Linked DNA regions of Homo sapiens: region 2 is reported to be linked to region 1. Evidence: microRNA targets listed by miRTarBase, many of them from high-throughput screens and not tested one by one. Region 1 holds a microRNA gene; the other region holds the end of a gene's coding sequence.

Region 1 (5,374 bases):
TTTGGGTGTTGTTTTGGGATGGAGTCTCCCTCTGTCACTCAGGCTAAAGTGCAGTGGTGCCATCTCGGCTCACTGCAACCTCTGCCTCCCGAGTTCAAGTGATTCTTGTGCCTCAGCCTCCTGAGTAGCTGGGATTACAGGCAAATGACACCACGCCCAGCTAATTTTTGGGGGGTATTTTTAGTAGAGATGAGGTTTCACCATATAGGCCAGGCCAGTCTCCAACTCCTGACCTCAAGTGATCCACCTGTCTTGGCCTCCCAAAGTGTTGGGATTACAGGCATGAGCCACCGCGACCGGCCAAGAATTTTTTTTTTTTTTTTTTTTGAGACAGAGTCTTGCTCTGTCGCCTGGGCTAGAATGCAATGGTGCAATCTTGGCTCACTGCAACCTCCACCTCCCAGATTCAAGCAATTCTCCTGCCTCAGCCGCCCAAATAGCTGGGTTTACAGGTGCGTGCCATCACACCTGGCTAATTTTTTGTATCTTTAGTAGAGATGGGGTTTCACTATGTTGGCCAGGCTGGTTTTGAACTCCTGACCTTGTGATCCACCCACCTCGGCCTCCCAAGGGAATGTATTTTTCATAGTTGATGTGTTCAAAACAGGATCCAATTGAAGTCCATGGTTTACATTCGTGTCTTTTGTTCCTTAAATCTCTTTAAATCTATAACAGCTCCATTCCCCCTAAATTGTTATGACGTGGGTGAGTTGAAAAGCCTGGGTCAGTTGTCCTATAGGATACCCCACATCCAGATTTGTCTGTTTGCTTTCTAGAGCTGGCCTTTACTTTGTTCTCTATTCCTGGGTTTCCTGTAAACTGAAATTATATCTAAAGGCTTGAAGAGATTTGGGCAATAAATTCGAGGCTAGACTATTTTGTAGGTGGTGCCATGTTACTCACACTGCATTTCCTCAGGATGCTCAATGTCAGGCTGTCTCACTCTGGGATGCTAAGTTTGATCCTTGGGTTCTGGTAGTGGCACCCTGATGCAAATAGCCCTAGGCCCTCTACACAGCACCCCGGTTCTGACCGGAGCCTCTTCCCTGTCTTTCTCCCCCCACCCCCCACAACCACCCTCTGCAGGTCAGGTCGTGGGCCTCTATTCCCGCTTTGATGTGATTGTAAGTGTCGCTGGAAAGGTGGGATGCTGCAGGGAGGCTAAGGGTGTGGGGATGGGTGGGGGGCCTCTGTGGACCAGGGGGACCTTGACAAGTATGCAGGGGTTGACATCTGTAGGGTAGGAGCCCAGGCAAGGGGGTGACTAGGAGCCATACTTCTCTCTCTGCCCCAGCACCTGGCTGCCCAGCAAACCTACAACCACCTGGACATGAGTGTGGGAGAAGCCCTGAGGCAGAGGACACTATGTCTGGAGGGAGTCCTTTCCTGCCAGCCCCACGAGAGCTTGGGGGAAGTGATCGACAGGATTGCTCGGGAGCAGGTACCGTGTGCCCTCCATTCATGCCCCCAACACATATAGCCCAGTCCTTCTCATGCACGGCTCCAGCCATCCCTGAACATCGGGCACCTGGCCTATCCTTCCATTTCATGACCAACTCCTGGTGCCCACACTGGCCTGCACCTGGTCCTGTCCATGGGGCCCTTATGCCAGGGGTCACTGCCAACTGATCACCTTAGGCCGGTCACACCATCCCTAACTGGTTTCTAGGAGACGCTCTCTCCCTCAGTCATGTTGGGTTGTTTCCCCTGATTCTTGGCACCAACCTCAGTAGCTGCTGTAGCCCCATGGCTCTGCCCCCTCACTGAACATTGCGGACCCACAGGTACACAGGCTGGTGCTAGTGGACGAGACCCAGCATCTCTTGGGCGTGGTCTCCCTCTCCGACATCCTTCAGGCACTGGTGCTCAGCCCTGCTGGCATCGATGCCCTCGGGGCCTGAGAAGATCTGAGTCCTCAATCCCAAGCCACCTGCACACCTGGAAGCCAATGAAGGGAACTGGAGAACTCAGCCTTCATCTTCCCCCACCCCCATTTGCTGGTTCAGCTATGATTCAGGTAGGCTCTGCCCTGGGCCATGACACCAGCCTCTTAGTCTTCCTGATTTCCTGGATCTCAGATTGGGACACCCTGAGGATGGGAGTGGCCAAGCTCAAAGCTGAGCAGCCCTGTGAAAACTGCAAGTGTAAGGACTCACAGGTCCCCACTTTGTCCCATTTTCAGCTGAGGTCATGGAGACTGTCCTAGAAGGGAGGGACAAAGCCCCGGCTAAAAGCTAAGGCTGCGATGTGACTTCAGACACTCTGGGAAGATTTACTTGTTCCCTCACAATTCAATTTCCACCTGCTGGAAATCCCCTTAGAAGGAAGCAAGCTATATCAACATTTGTTGGATGGAATTTCCATCCCCAGTAAGAACTAAAGCTTAAAGGAAGGAGCTTCTACCTACGTGCTCATCTCAGGAAATGTGACATGATCTCAGACTCTTTCCTGGTCACACGTTTGCTAGGGGCTTGCAGAGGATGGGCACAGATTCCATCTACTCACCATGGCTGGCAAGGGTCCCCTGTTGGAAAGGCCGCTGTCCCTCCTATGTGGTCACCATCTTCCCTTTTCTTTTCCCCACAGGCTTCTTCAGCCCTCCCAAATTGCCCTTGCCCTACCTGTGCTCCCAGAAGCCCTCGGGCATGCCCAGTGCACCATGGGATGATGAAATTAAGGAGAACAGCTGAGTCAAGCTTGGAGGTCCCTGAACCAGAGGCACTAGGATTACCCCAGGGCCATCTGTGCTCCATGCCCGCCCATCCCCTTGCCGCCTGACTGGGTCGGATGGCCCCAGTGGGTTTAGTCAGGGCTTCTGGATTCCTCGGTTTCTGGGCTACCTATGGCTTCAGCCTTCAGCTCCTGGGAGTCCCAGCTGTTGTTCCCAGCAACGTCGCCACTGCCCTCCTACTCTCCAGGCTTTGTCATTTCAAGGCTGCTGAAATGCTGCATTTCAGGGGCCACCATGGAGCAGCCGTTATTTATAGAACTGCCTGTTGGAGGTGGGGAGTCCTCCCTCCATTCTTGTCCAGAAAACTCCTTAGCTCTCGCAGTGAGCCATGTTCTTAGTCTCCAGGGATGGATGGCCTTGTATATGGACCCCTGAGAATGAGCAATTGAGAAAACAAAACAAAAGGAACAATCCATGAACTTAGATTTTATTGGTTTCACTCAAAATGCTGCAGTCATTTGACCTGAACTTGTGGCAAGAGACTTGTGCTTTCTAAATTCAAAGACTAGAAGGAAAATGGATAAAAATCACAAGTGCCGTTTCTCTTGCAATGTAGCGCTATTCTACTGAAATTTCTTTCTTCTCTTTTCTTTACAAAATCATAAAGAAAAAATTAATTCATTACTTATATAGTAGGTACAACTCAGCCTACAAACTCTAATCTGCAAGAAGCATAACTTTATTTTTCTAACACAGAATGTAATTTCTATTAGGAACCCCGTTTCAGCAGGTGGTAGAAATTAATCTCAGTCAATTCAAAGTCTCCCCCTGACCTTTTCCTGGGGTTAAGCTCGGTCGGGTGGGGGTGTGGCTTTAAGTCATGTAAGACTCTGTTCCTCGGCTATCATCATCCGTCCATGCTCGCACCTGCCTGGACATCCCCTCCCCATCTGGTCATCAGTTGGTCATGCAAGGTCTGCCAGGGGCTCCTTCACTTCCACAAAGCCTATTTGGGGACCTGTGGCTTGGAGCATGTGGAAGATTCTAGCTCCTGGCCCTGCACACCCTCTGGCTTCAGGAAGCTCAGTAATTCTGTTCCAGGCCAACTGCTAAGATAGACAGCCCAGTCCCTTGTTCCGCTCTGTGGCTTGCTGTTTTCCCAGGCTCTACCCAGGAAGCGTGTGGGTTCTTCTACCCAGTGCTTGCCTACACTTATCACCTCCAAACCTATATGGAGTATTTGTCATACTTTCCCCCTCTTTAGCCGCAACCTCCTTCTCAGGGTCCTTTTCTCAAGAATTCCAGAAATGTCAACATTCGCCTTGCTCCCCAAGCCCTGCCAACCTATGGAATCTTGACCAGTGGGGGAGAGAGGAGGCTTTTATTCTTTAACCCATCATATATTCTTCCAAATGCACTGTAAGTGTCCTGAGTTCTTGCCACCCACCTTCAGAATCAAGCTTTTAAAATTCCAAAGCCAAGGCTCGCTTCTGCTATGTCACCTTCCCTGTGGCAACGGGCACCACATGTCTGGCTGTCCAGAGAAGGGGGAGATTACTGTCTCTAAAACATGACCCCTTCCCCTTACCTCACAGAGCGAGAAGGCAGAGGCTTTGTACTGAATTGGTTGGACCATAAATGAAGATGTTCCCTCACTAGACATTTTGCCAAAACCTGAGGGTCAGTGCTGGCTCTGCTGTGGTCCCGCCCAGGGAAGGTCCAGGGTCTTGGGCTCAAGGGAGAGGATTGGAGTTGGGTGATGGTTGGGTCTGGGCCCAGAGAGGATCTCTCCAGTGACAGTGTTCCTGGGGAGCCTAGGGCTCTGGGATCTTGTAACAGGTCAGTCCTTTGAGGCTGTGCCTCTGGGTGGCTCTGCTCTGTGGGACCTTCTCTGTAAGGGCACATGCCACCCTCCCTGCCTCAGACCCCTCCTTTGGTCACAGCCCGGCCCTTGCAGCCATGATGGCTGCTAGAAAAGAGTCACGGAGTTTCCACCGGGGCTGCGGCGGCTGCTTCTTCCACTCCAGCTCTGAATCGAAGACGTGCCCTGTGTGCAGCCCGCTGTGCCGCCCACTCTGTTCCTGCATGTGAACTTGGGGCGGGACTGGTTTTCCAGGCACTGCTGCCTCCGTGCCCCCAGCCCCTCCTCAGACCTCTGCGGGCCTCTCTGGGTTTCTGTAGCTTCCTTCGCTTTCCCGTCTCTCTTCTCACAACCCCTTCAGAGCTCTCCACCATGGATGTGCATCAGGATCACCAAAGAAGCCTTACAAAATGCAGATTCCAGGGCTCCATTCCATACTAATTTCCTCATTTGGGGGTGGGAACTGAGCAACTGTGTTTATTTTCTATAAATGCTAGAGACTTATGACTAATAGCACATGATGAACATGAGACTGGGCTGAGAAATGAGGATGCCCCATGCTCATAGCTAGTCAATCATTTGTCATATGATGGAGTCTAGCTATTATTTAATTAGGCCTAGGGTCTCCGAAAAGCAATGGCTAAGGGTAGTGGCGCAACATAGATGTATGACTCATTACCATTCTCACCACCCTTCTCCCAGACCTCCTTAAATGCAGAAGTGTTCATTAAAATATCCTGCATGTTCCTTTCATGACAATTGCCCAAGTTTTTATTTGATATGCATATTAAAACTGGAGTCATAAATAATGACCTGGAAACAAACTCCTATTACCAAGCCAA
Region 2 (5,374 bases), not on the chromosome of region 1:
GAATCTCAGGAGCCTTATGGGCCAAGTAGGTCTAGGAAACCAGCAGGGCAGAGAGCTAGGACCTTGTGCAGGTGAGCACAAGCTAGCTCCTCCGGATTCATGGGTGAAGGTCATGCTTTGATCCATGGGCAGCACCTATAATGGTCACCAGGAACCTGAGGAAATGGGAGGGAAGAGGAGAAGGGGGACGCCCCTTCCATTTTTCTCTCTGCTGTCGATCACTCCAGAAGGACAAAGGAGACTAAGGGATGCCTTTTCTCTCCTCTTTTTCTAGATATGTAACAAATCATCTTCAGCCTATACTCCTCTCAAGTGCATTCTGAAACACTGGAACTCCTTTGACACTCAGACTCTGAAGAAAGAGCACCTCATATTCTTTTGCACTCGGGCATGGCCGTCTTACCAGCTGCAGGATGGGGAGGCTTGGCCTCCTGAGGGAAGTGTTAATATTAATACTATTCAACAACTAGATGTTTTCTGCAGACAGGAGGGCAAATGGTCCGAGGTTCCTTATGTGCAAGCCTTCTTTGCCTTGCGAGACAACCCAGATCTTTGTCAGTGTTGTAGAATTGACCCTGCTCTCCTAACAGTTACATCAGGCAAGTCCATAGATGATAATTCCACAAAGTCTGAGAAACAAACCCCTAGGGAACACTCGGATGCAGTTCCGGATGCCCCAATCCTTCCTGTCTCCCCTATCTGGGAACCTCCTCCAGCCACAACATCAACAACTCCAGTTCTATCCTCCCAACCCCCAACTTTACTGTTACCCCTACAGTAAATGCCTGATGGACCTGGTGCCACTAGGGTCCAAGTTCCCTTTTCATTACAGGACCTTGGGCAAATAAGAGGGGACCTGGGCAAGTTCTCTGATGACCTGATAGATATATAGAGGCTTTCCAAAACCTAACTCAGGTGTTTGACCTTACTTGGGGTGATGTTATGTTGCTCTTAAACTCTTAACTACTACAGAGAAACAGGTAGCCCTGCAGGCAGCAGAAAAATTCAGAGATGAACAACATGTCTTCTATAGCCACTCAATAAGGAAAGAAGGTGAGAAACAACCAGCATTCACATACCCAATAGGAAGCGAGGCAGTGCCCCTTGAACAACATAATTCGGACCCCAGTGGTACCTTAGATGAGTGGCAAAGAAAACATTTTCAAATGTGCTTATTAGAGGGCCTACAGAGGACCAGAGCCAAGCCTCTTAATTACCCCAAACTCTCCATGATAGATCAAAAACTAGATGAAAATCCCTCAGCCTTTTTGGAAAGGCTGAGAGAGGCTGTAGTGAAACACACTTCCTTGTCTCCTGTTAGGTATGTTTATACCTCACATAAATAATTCAATTGAGGGACAGCTAATTTTGAAAGACAAGTTTATTACTCAGACAGCCCCTGATATCAGAAGGAAGCTAGAGAAACAGGCCATGGGATTAGATAGCACCTTACAAAACCTCCTGAAGGTAGCCACCTCGGTCTTTTATAATAGGGACCAGGAGGAGGCCCAGGGGAAGGAGAGGAAACACAAGAAAAAGGCAGAGACTCTGGTGGCCACTTTGTATAAAACCCAGTATCCCCAAGGTACACCTGCTAGTTGCTACCAATGTGGCAAACTAGGGCACTTCAAAAGGGACTGCCCAGGCAGCAAGAAGAAGCCACCTCAACCCTGTCCAGTATACAATGGGGACCACTGGAAGGCAGACTGTCCTGGGAAGCATAGGTCACTGAGTCCAGAGCCAGTCTCACAAATGGTCCAGCAGGACTGATGGGTCCTGGGGCTCAACTCCCTGGCTCCAGTGGCTCAGACTGCTGTTACTACCCGGGAGCACCAGGTGATTCTGGAGTTCGAAGGGAGGAAGGTAGACTTCTTTCTGGACACTGGAGCCAGGCTTCTGTTTTCCTCTCCAATTCAGGCCTTCGTTCCTCCCATAGCACAACCATGATGGGCATCTCAGGAAAGACTTTAACTTGATATTTTTCTCAACCTATTAGTTGCAGTCAGAGGGACCTACTGTTTACACAGGCCTTTTTAGTCATGCCTGAAAGTCCCACTCCTTTATTAGATAGAGATATTCCAGCACGTATGGGGGCCACCATCCTTATGGCTCCAGGACAAACTCCGCCTCCCCTTAGTGGAAACCAGTATTAACCCAGAGGTTTGGGCAACTCAGGGAAGAAGTGGCCGGACTATAACCACTATACCAGTCTGGATCCACCTCAAGGATCCCACTTTTTTTCCTAACCAGAGACAATACCCTCTGAAGCCAGAAAGTAGAAAAGGGCTAGACGCCAGCATTGATAACCTAAAGGCACAAGGCCTCCTTAGGCCTTGCAGTAGCCCTTGAAACACCCCAATATTAGGGGTGCAAAAATCCAATGGGGAAGGGAGACTAGTTCAGGACCTCTGCCTTATTCATGAGGCTGTGATTACGATTCATCCAGTAGATCCCAGTCCCTATACTTTGCTAACTCAAATATCCAAGGGAACTAAATGGTTCACAGTTCTGGGCCTAAAGGATGCCTTTTTCTGTATACCTTTATACCCTGACTCCCAATACTTGTTTACCTTTGAAGACCCCTCCAATCAAACCACCCAGTTAACCTGGACTGTACTGCCTCAGGGATTTAGAGATAGCCCCCACCTATTTGGGCAAGTATTGTCAAGAGATCTCTTCGAATTCTTCCATTCTCAGGTTAAAGTTTTACAATATGTAGATGACATTCTCCTCTGTGCCCCAACTGAGGAAGTTTCTTGAGACGGCACTGAGGCTCTCCTTAATTTCCTAGCTGGAAAGGGATATAAGGCTTCAAAATCTAAGGCTCAGCTCTATCAGACTTTGGTAAAGTACCTAGGTCTGGTCTTGTCAGAAGGGAACAAGAGCACTAGGCGAGGAGAGGATTAATCCCATTTCCTCCCTTCCTCTCCCCAGAACCCTCAAGCAGCTGAGGGATGCTTGGGCATTACAGGTTTTTGTAGGTTATAGATACCCAGGTATGATAAAATAGGTTGCCCTTTATATCACCTTATAAAAGAAATTCAAGTGGCTAAAACTCACTTCCTGACCTGGGAACCTGAAGGTCAAAAGGCCATTAATCAGTTAAAACAAGCCTTGCTTAAAGCACCAGCCCCCAGTCTTTCTGTAGGGAAGTCCTTTAATCTTTATGTATCATAAAGGAAAGGAATGACCCTGGGAGTTTTAATTCAAGTTCAAGGCCCAGCTCAACAGCCAGTAGGTTACTTAAGTAGAGAGCTTGACTTGGAGGCTAAAGGATGGCCAGCTTGCCTCTGAGCAGTTACAGTAGTGGCCCTGCTAGTCCCAGAGGCCACCAAGTTAACCCTGGGGAATAACCTGTTTATGCCTCACATAAATAATGTGGCAGGCTTGCTGTCCTCTAAAGCGAGTCTCTGGCTAACAGACAGCTGCCTCCTCAAGTATCAGACTTTGCTGCTAGAGGAATCTGCAGTCCAGTTAAAAACCTGACCTTGCCTGATCCCAGACACTTTCCTCCCAGAGGAAACTGGAGAAACTGAACATAATTGTGAACAGACTGTAGTACAACCTATGCCGCTAGGGAGGATCTCAAAGAAATTCCCCTAGAAAATCCAGACTGGACCCACTTTATGGATGGGAGCTCTTTTGTAGGACAGGGAGTCTGAAAAGTGGGATATGCAGTAGTCACCCTAAATAACATTGAAAATGTGCCTCTCTCACCAGGCACACACACTCAATCAGTTGAGCTGATCCCTCTCACAAGAGCACTTGAACTAAGCAAAGGAAAGACAGCTAACATTTATACTGACTCCAAGTGTACCTTTCTAGTTCTCCTTGCCCATGCTGCCATCTGAAAGGAAAGGCACTTCCTCACCGCTAATGGGTCTTGCATTAAATACCATCAAGACATCAACAGGCTATTATCCTCAGTGTTCCTCCCATGAGAATTAGTGGTCAGACATTGCAGAGGGCATCAGAAGCGGGTAGATGAAATAGCGAAAGGAAACAGGCTAGCAGACCAAAGAGCTAAGTCAGCAGTAAGAAGGCCCCAAGGTCCCAAAACACTTGAGGCCCCTCTGATTTGGGAGGGCTACATAAGGGAAATAAAGCCTCAGTATTCCCCTACAGAGATAGAATGGGCCACCTCTCGAGGTATACTTTTCAACCCTCAGGATGGTTACAATCAGAAGATTGCAAAGTACGCTTGCCAGCCTCCAGCCAATGGAAGATTCTTAAAATCCTCCACTGAGCCTTTCACTTAGGAAAGCATAAGACATCAGTGCATCCAAAGATTGTTCTCAGGAGAAAATCTACTAAAAATGGTCAAATAGGTTGTTAATACTCGTGAAACCCTCTTAAAAATAATCCCTTTAACAGATGACTTCTTCCCCACCACAATCAAAGGATGGGAAGTTACTCAGGGGAGGACTGGCAGATAGACTTCACCCATATGCCCAAAATAAATGGCATTCAATGTCTTTTGGTGTGGGTGCATACCTTCATTAACTGGGTAGAGGCATTCCCATGCCCAACAGAAAAGGCCTCTGAGGTGGTGAGAATACTAATTAGTTAAATAATTCCTCACTTTGGGCTCCCTAAGTACTTCCAAAACAACAATGGTCCCTCATTTAAAGAAGCCTCTACCCAGTAGGGCCGAGTCTGCTAGGACTTTTTATTGGGTTTGGTAATACGTCACACCCTTTAGCCTCTACTGTGTCAGCCATGTCCCATTTATACAAGACAAATTGCTGGGTCTGTCCTGAGCGGTTTGCTCAGTTCAGTAACACTAAGGAACCTCTTGATGACTTGGTATTTACTGTCTTAGCATTCCCTTTGTTAGCTTTACCTTTAGCCATTAAAGACTTGTCAGGCATAAATGGAACATGGTATGGGAACACTTTCAACTGAGTAACTAACTCCTCCCAGGAAAGCATTTCCTCCCTGGTGCCAGAAAACACTTTCCCCAAAGATAAGCCTCACACCCTCAGGCTAGGAAAAGTTGGCCGGGTAATAGCAAATGCCTCCTCCTGTTTTAAAAGCAGAGGAAAAGGACCATACCTGGGAGATCTCAAATATTATAACACCATACTTGTAATTGCTGAAAGCTCGGAAGTTTGGAGAAAAAGACATAAGAAGGATGATCTAAGAAAATTGGAAGCCATATGGAGGGGAGGCTTTCAGAATTCAGCGTCTCCTCCTGGTTGAAAGTCCTGCTGGGAATGGCAGGCTCTGGGTAACCACCCTGACACATGGCACTATAATGTAAAAAACAACACATAGGCCTTCCCAGACATGCACCCTCATGGGATTCCAGACCCCCTGTATGATGCTTAGTAGTAGTGGCCTACAAATCTGTGGGTGAACAGAACAGGAGACT

Evidence for each region. Region 1 holds the annotated microRNA hsa-miR-9500 (AAGGGAAGAUGGUGACCAC, at 2,553-2,571, opposite strand). A microRNA usually pairs through its seed, bases 2 to 8, with sites in the 3' UTR of a target mRNA and lowers its output. Matches are read on the target gene's strand: a 7mer-m8 pairs with bases 2 to 8, a 7mer-A1 pairs with bases 2 to 7 and ends in A, and an 8mer does both.
Region 2: miRTarBase lists NCR3LG1 as a target of hsa-miR-9500. The part of its 3' UTR that is shown has no 7-base or 8-base seed match.

The regions. Positions count from the first base shown.
Region 1 is chr2:218,820,289-218,825,662 of GRCh38, reverse strand. MIR9500 (microRNA 9500) reads right to left here and starts at 2,573; the gene lies at 2,509-2,573. It overlaps PRKAG3 (protein kinase AMP-activated non-catalytic subunit gamma 3), which reads left to right. Exons shown (of 14, transcript NM_017431.4): 11 at 1,087-1,124; 12 at 1,295-1,441; 13 at 1,785-2,017; 14 at 2,587-3,355. The coding sequence ends at 1,901. RefSeq lists an enhancer at 1,602-2,801.
Region 2 is chr11:17,371,732-17,377,105 of GRCh38, forward strand. It overlaps NCR3LG1 (natural killer cell cytotoxicity receptor 3 ligand 1), which reads left to right. Exons shown (of 5, transcript NM_001202439.3): 5 at 275-5,374. The coding sequence ends at 781. Among named protein-coding and RNA genes, the nearest start is that of KCNJ11, 14 kb to the right of the region's middle. RefSeq lists a silencer at 1-187 and an enhancer at 4,609-5,147.